Linked DNA regions of Homo sapiens: region 2 is linked to region 1. The links come from fine-mapping of genetic effects on gene expression. Tissue or cell type: substantia nigra. Region 1 holds a variant in brackets; the other region holds the start of a gene. All regions are shown on one strand. Distances are from middle to middle.

What was found. PIP is the estimated chance that this variant, and not a neighbour inherited with it, causes the effect.
Region 2: it holds the start of LINC01763, and the variant in region 1 is fine-mapped to the expression of LINC01763 in substantia nigra (GTEx, PIP above 0.99).

Annotation. Positions count from the first base shown.
Region 1 is chr1:89,892,845-89,895,530 of GRCh38, forward strand. The region is part of intron 2 of LRRC8D (leucine rich repeat containing 8 VRAC subunit D); the gene reads left to right. Among named protein-coding and RNA genes, the nearest start is that of LRRC8D-DT, 72 kb to the left of the region's middle. RefSeq lists a silencer at 1,386-1,680. The variant G/A (reference allele first, on the strand shown) is at 1,186.
Region 2 is chr1:90,850,692-90,853,377 of GRCh38, forward strand. LINC01763 (long intergenic non-protein coding RNA 1763) reads left to right here and starts at 1,068. Exons shown (of 2, transcript NR_146610.1): 1 at 1,068-1,588. It overlaps LINC02609 (long intergenic non-protein coding RNA 2609), which reads right to left and starts at 947. Exons shown (of 3, transcript NR_135038.1): 1 at 792-947. RefSeq lists an enhancer at 1-492 and silencers at 276-395, 686-1,085.

The sequences.
Region 1 (2,686 bases):
ACAAGGTTATTATATGTAACTTTGTTAAAACTTTCTTGAAATCAAGTAAAATTCAATCAGACAAAGTTTATTTGAAATTACATGTCCTCAGCTTTCAGTTGACATGTGGTTAATTTGTTCATTCATTCATTTATTTATTTATTAAACAGATAATCTATAAACATCTATATGACAGGTACTGTCCTAGGTGCTGAGAATAGAGTGTGAACAAAATAGACAGGATCTCAGCTTGTGGATCCATAAGCAACCAAAAACATAAACAAGATAATATAAAATAGCTGTAAAAGCTATGAAGAAATGAAATGAGATGGGGACTAATCAGGAAAGGCCTCAATGAAGAGGTGCCAGCTGAGCTAGGGCAGGAGTGTTGAGAAGAAGGGAACAATGAGAAGATCTGGGGAATGAACAGTCCTGCAGAGGGATGAGCACGTGCAGAGGTCCTGAGATACAGGTGAGCTTGGCATATTCAAAGAACTGAAGGGCAGCCAGTGGGCGAAAACATGGTTATAGCTTTCAGTTACTTGAAAAATATTCGTTATCACTTTTTTCCTAGAAAGCATCTAACTTCATGCTTAAAATTTGACTTTATTTGCTCATTTAACTAGGAAAAAAAAGGTAGACCAGAATTGCAAGGGAATTAGCATATTTCCCCAGGAACAAAGTATTCTGAAAACAAAACAACAGAAAATACTGGAAATTATGCATTTTCAAGATTGATAAGAATGCTCTTGTTTTCCCAAGCATACATTTTTTCCCTGAAGTAGATACAGTGGAACCCATCTATATTGTAATGGGACATACGTTATTGTTCTGAATGCTTTAATATCTAGTATTTTAGAATGTCTTTTATACTGGATAGTAGTGTAAAATGCCTTGAGACATGCAGTTGGTTTTTAGACTTAAGACCTCTTGATGATTGCAGACTTACTCTTTTTTCAGTAGAGCATAGTGGAAACTAAAGAGTTTTTTAGATGAATATCTGGAGTAATTTAATTACCATTTTAATTGTTCTGTATTTGCAGATAATTGGTGATGTGAGTTTTTGACTGACTTGAGATTAAAATGTGCTAAACCCTTACCTGATAACTCTCATTAGAGCAATATATGCTGGAAGCAGAGGGCTCTTGTTATGGACTAAGTGTTTATGTCCCCCACAAAGTGTTGAAATCCTAACCCCAGTGTAAT[G/A]GTATTAGGAGGTAGGGCCTTTGGAAAGTAATTAGGGCATGAGGGCTCTGCCCTCATGGATGGGATTCATGCTGTTATAAAAGGGACCCCAGAGAGTTCTCCTGCCCTTTTCTCACCATGTGAGGATAGACAGGGAAGTCAGCTGTCTGCAATCTGGAAGAAGGCCCTCACCAAACTCGGCTGTGTTGGTACCCTGATCTTAGATTTCCAGATTCCAGAACTGTGAGGAATAAATGTTTGTCATTTAAGGCACCCAGCCTGTGTAATCTGTAATAGCAGTTCAGACTAAGACAGCCCCATATTACTCACTCTCCATCTGAGAGTGAGCCGAGCACATAGCATTCTTGGCATCAGTAGCACAAGGGTATGAAGGGAAATGCTTGAAGATAACTGGAATGTATAGTAGAAATGTGATTCCTGTTTATCTCTGAGTGTTAACTTTCAGAACATAGGAAATTGAGATGCTCCCTTAAACATTCTTTTAGATAGCAATTTAGGGAGGCAAGCTGAACTTAAATCTTTTAGGAAATTGGACAGAGTCATAGCCCATTGGGTTTAGAGGTAGTATAAGAAAGGTTGCTGACATTATTTGGCTAAAGTGAATGGAGAACAGAGTAAACCAAGAAGATAGTGTTCATGTACATCATCAGCACAATACTGAGTAAGCTGAAATATAGAAAAATAATGTATGCTTACTATTATTGGAATGTGAGTGACATAAGTAAATTTCATAAAGGGAATATAAGTCACCACTCAAATAGTTGTTTCTTTCCTTTCCTTAAGATACAAGTGTTCCATATCTTACGGGTGAGTACAATATTGGCTGATGTGATACGGAAAATTCTGTCAAGTTCGGAGACAGCCATAGTGTTGAAAGTTCTGAGTGCTTTCAACACTATCAAATAGTGCTCATATTCTTTCATTGTCAGATTCCATGACCCAAGTGTGTCTGTAGGTGAAGGTCTCCCACCCCCACCCCACCCACTGATCACTCAGTAAGCAAGCAGGCTGATGTCTCAGTGCCTACAGTGAGCAGTGTTAACTGACTCCTGTACTTGCTTGTCTGAGGACAGACAGGTGTGCTAGATAATTAACATTTTTTGGAAACAAAATTATTACATTATCCTAAAAATAAATCAACATACTGGGAACACATGCAGGACTTTTGTATTACTACGCAAGAAAAGATAAGCCTACTATATTCATATAATATATTATGAAGTCTGTTAGATGACCTTAAATTTGTTCATTTTTCTTATTTGACAAGAGTTTTAAATCCCTATGTATTTACAGATTTGGCAGACTTGGTATGTTTTCTTCAAGCTATCATAAACAAGCAAATGGCTCAGAAAAATTCCCAGCTAGGTAATTTTATCTCAAATATCTGCTTAATTTCAAAGGCAACTTGAGTTAGCCCTGTGCAAACTCAAAACACTGTGTGTAAATATATGTGTAATAATTTTTTTTCTACGTACCACATGTATCTTCTAAGTAGCATAAT
Region 2 (2,686 bases), 960 kb after region 1:
CCGCCGTGCGATGGCCGGCTTTGGGCACCGGGGGTGGGGGCTACGCTACGCGTGAAGGGCCTCAGTCCTCGGGCTTTAGTTCAGGAAGAAAATGAAAGCTGGAGGTCTCGTGGGCGGGACTGGAGGCGGCCAGATAGGCAAGAACCCGCAACAGGAGTAGGGACATTTTTTCTTCAAATTCCAATCCCATCCAGCGATAGACAGGCGCGTGGGTCTCCCTCCTCCACGACCACCACACAATGGCACACACTTTTGCTGGAAACTGAAATCGAAGTCTCTGAGGCAGGCTGGGGCCCAGGCCGGCAGCGGGGAGGGGCAGGGTCCAGCCACCTCGGCGTGGCCTTGGCGAGCGCTCCGGGGTCAGAGGCCGTCGTTCTCGCCGCGCTCCACAGCGCGTCACCCGCTGCCCTAGCGACCCCCGGGCGACCCCGGCATCGCCTGGCTGCGCCGTCCCGGCGGGCCGGCCCTCTCCACGCCCTCTCCTGGGGTTTGCGGTGGGCACAGCTCCCTCCAGACTGGGTCTCTCCACTAGCCTCCTCCCCAACTGCAACGTGGGAACCAGAGCTATCCGAGTCACGAGCCCCAAGTGCACACAAAGCCCCCAACGGGGCCACGGCGCCTCCACGCCTCGCTACCTCCAGCTCCAGGAGCGCAGAACGCAGCGCCCTGGGTCACCGCGTCTGCCCTGCGGAGCAGCCCCACTGAGGGGAAGCCTCGGGCAGGAGGTGAGACCCCGCGCACGCAAGCACCCCCGCCCCAAGCAGGGCCCTCTGCCCGAGGGAGACTCTCACCTCAAATAAACGGGCGCTGCCGCCTCCAGGGGGAGGACAGCGGGCGGAGAATACTCACGCTGGGCCCAGCCGCGCGGGGACTTCGCTGGGAACCACGCGCGGGCTCCCGCCGGGGAGCGGAGCCCCAGCCTGCAGTCCTGCGCCCGCCCCAGCACCGCCTCCTCGGAAGGGAGGCCTCTACCGTCCGGCGGCGGACCTGCAGCCGCCGCGGGAGACGCTGCCCCGCCCCCCGGCCCCGCCCTTCGGCCCATCCCCGCCCCGCTGGCCTCCTTTTCCCCTGCCCCCTCCCTCCGCTCCTCAACGCCCGCCGGGTGCAATCTGCTCTCTCCGGGAGACGAACGCGAAGCGACGTGGAAACCCTTCCACCAAAATGAGCTGTGATATCCTTTTGATGGCTATAATTTATTCCAAATCGTCCCTGGACTGAAACGATCAATTAGCAGCCCGAAACGCACTGTGAAGTAAATTGTCACACTCTCTATTACAGGATGGTTATCATATATTTATAAGGTGTGTTTTCTGCAATCAGAACCAACAAGGTGTTGAGCGATCAGTCATAAACGCACTTCTTCAAAAAGAGAGGGAGAGAAGCTCAGCATTGTGTGGCGGGGGAATAATCCTCATGACAGTTCTCTCCCCACCCAGTGATGTTTTGTCTTGGCACCTGGGAAGTGCAGTGAGGGCTGGAGCTCTGGACGGACTCTCTTCGCCACGCGTGCCCCTGGAAGCAGGGTCCCTGTGAACTACGGAGAGACCCCAGAGGAGAGATTTCCTTATTGTGTAAACACAAATCAGTCGTAAGGGCCGCTCCCTCTGTCTTTCTCTGTCTTCTCTTGTATCCACGAAAATAATATCTTACTCTTTGCTTCTAAGCTTCTAATAGAATGTTTGCATCCTACACTTAATGATAAGTATTTTTTCTTCTTCCTCAGGTCTCAAGGTGTTGACCTCCTCTCTTGTTATTTAATTGATGATGTTCGGTAGAAATTATGTCTGGGTGATATGAAGTTTACCCACAGAGAGAACCCTGCTTTCTGAATTGAAATCCTCAGCAGAACTCTTCCATCATTCATAAATGAGATAGCCCAAAGTTCTAAGAAAGTAATAAGAAAGGGCGATTTAGGCCAGGCGCCGTGGCTCACGCCTGTAATCCCAGCACTTTGGGAGGCCAAGGCGGGCGGATCACTTGAGGTCAGGAGTTCAAGACCAGCCTGGTCAACATGGTGAAACCCCGTCTCTACTAAAAATATAAAAGAGTAGCCGGGCATGGTGGTGCATGCCTGTGATCCCAGATATTCGGGAGGCTGGGGCAGGAGAATCTCTTGAGCGGGGGAGATGGAGGTTGCAGTGAGCTGAGATCATGCCACTGCACTGCACTCCAGCCTGGGTGACAGAGTGAGACTCTGTCTCAAAAAAAAAAAAAAAAAAAAAAATACTGATTCAGCCTGGTAGCTATTTTGACTGGACCAGGCCATGGAGACATTGTTATTTTCCTTCTCAGTGGTCAGGAATATACATCTGGAACTTCTGAGTTTTTCCCCTTACAAACTTTCATCAGATAGTCATCCATGAACCACCTATCAATCATTTTTTAGAAGGGTTCTAGTTTGCATCCAAGTGATATTCCTTTTGCCTGAAAAACATAGCTTTAGAGCCTAGACTACTGGTTATTGATTGTGAAAAAAATTTAGCAGCTAGAATTATGCCTTTGTAGTAATAAAGTGACATTCATGCAGAGTGAATCACAAGGTGTGAAGGTAAGATGCAGAATTTATACCACATTCTTCTTAGGTTAAGTGCCCCCATGACTTTTGCATGGGAGGGCTTATCTGCAATGCCAACCCTTGAAGAATGGGGAGAAAGGAAATCTCGTTGGGTATTTGAGCTGTGGAGGC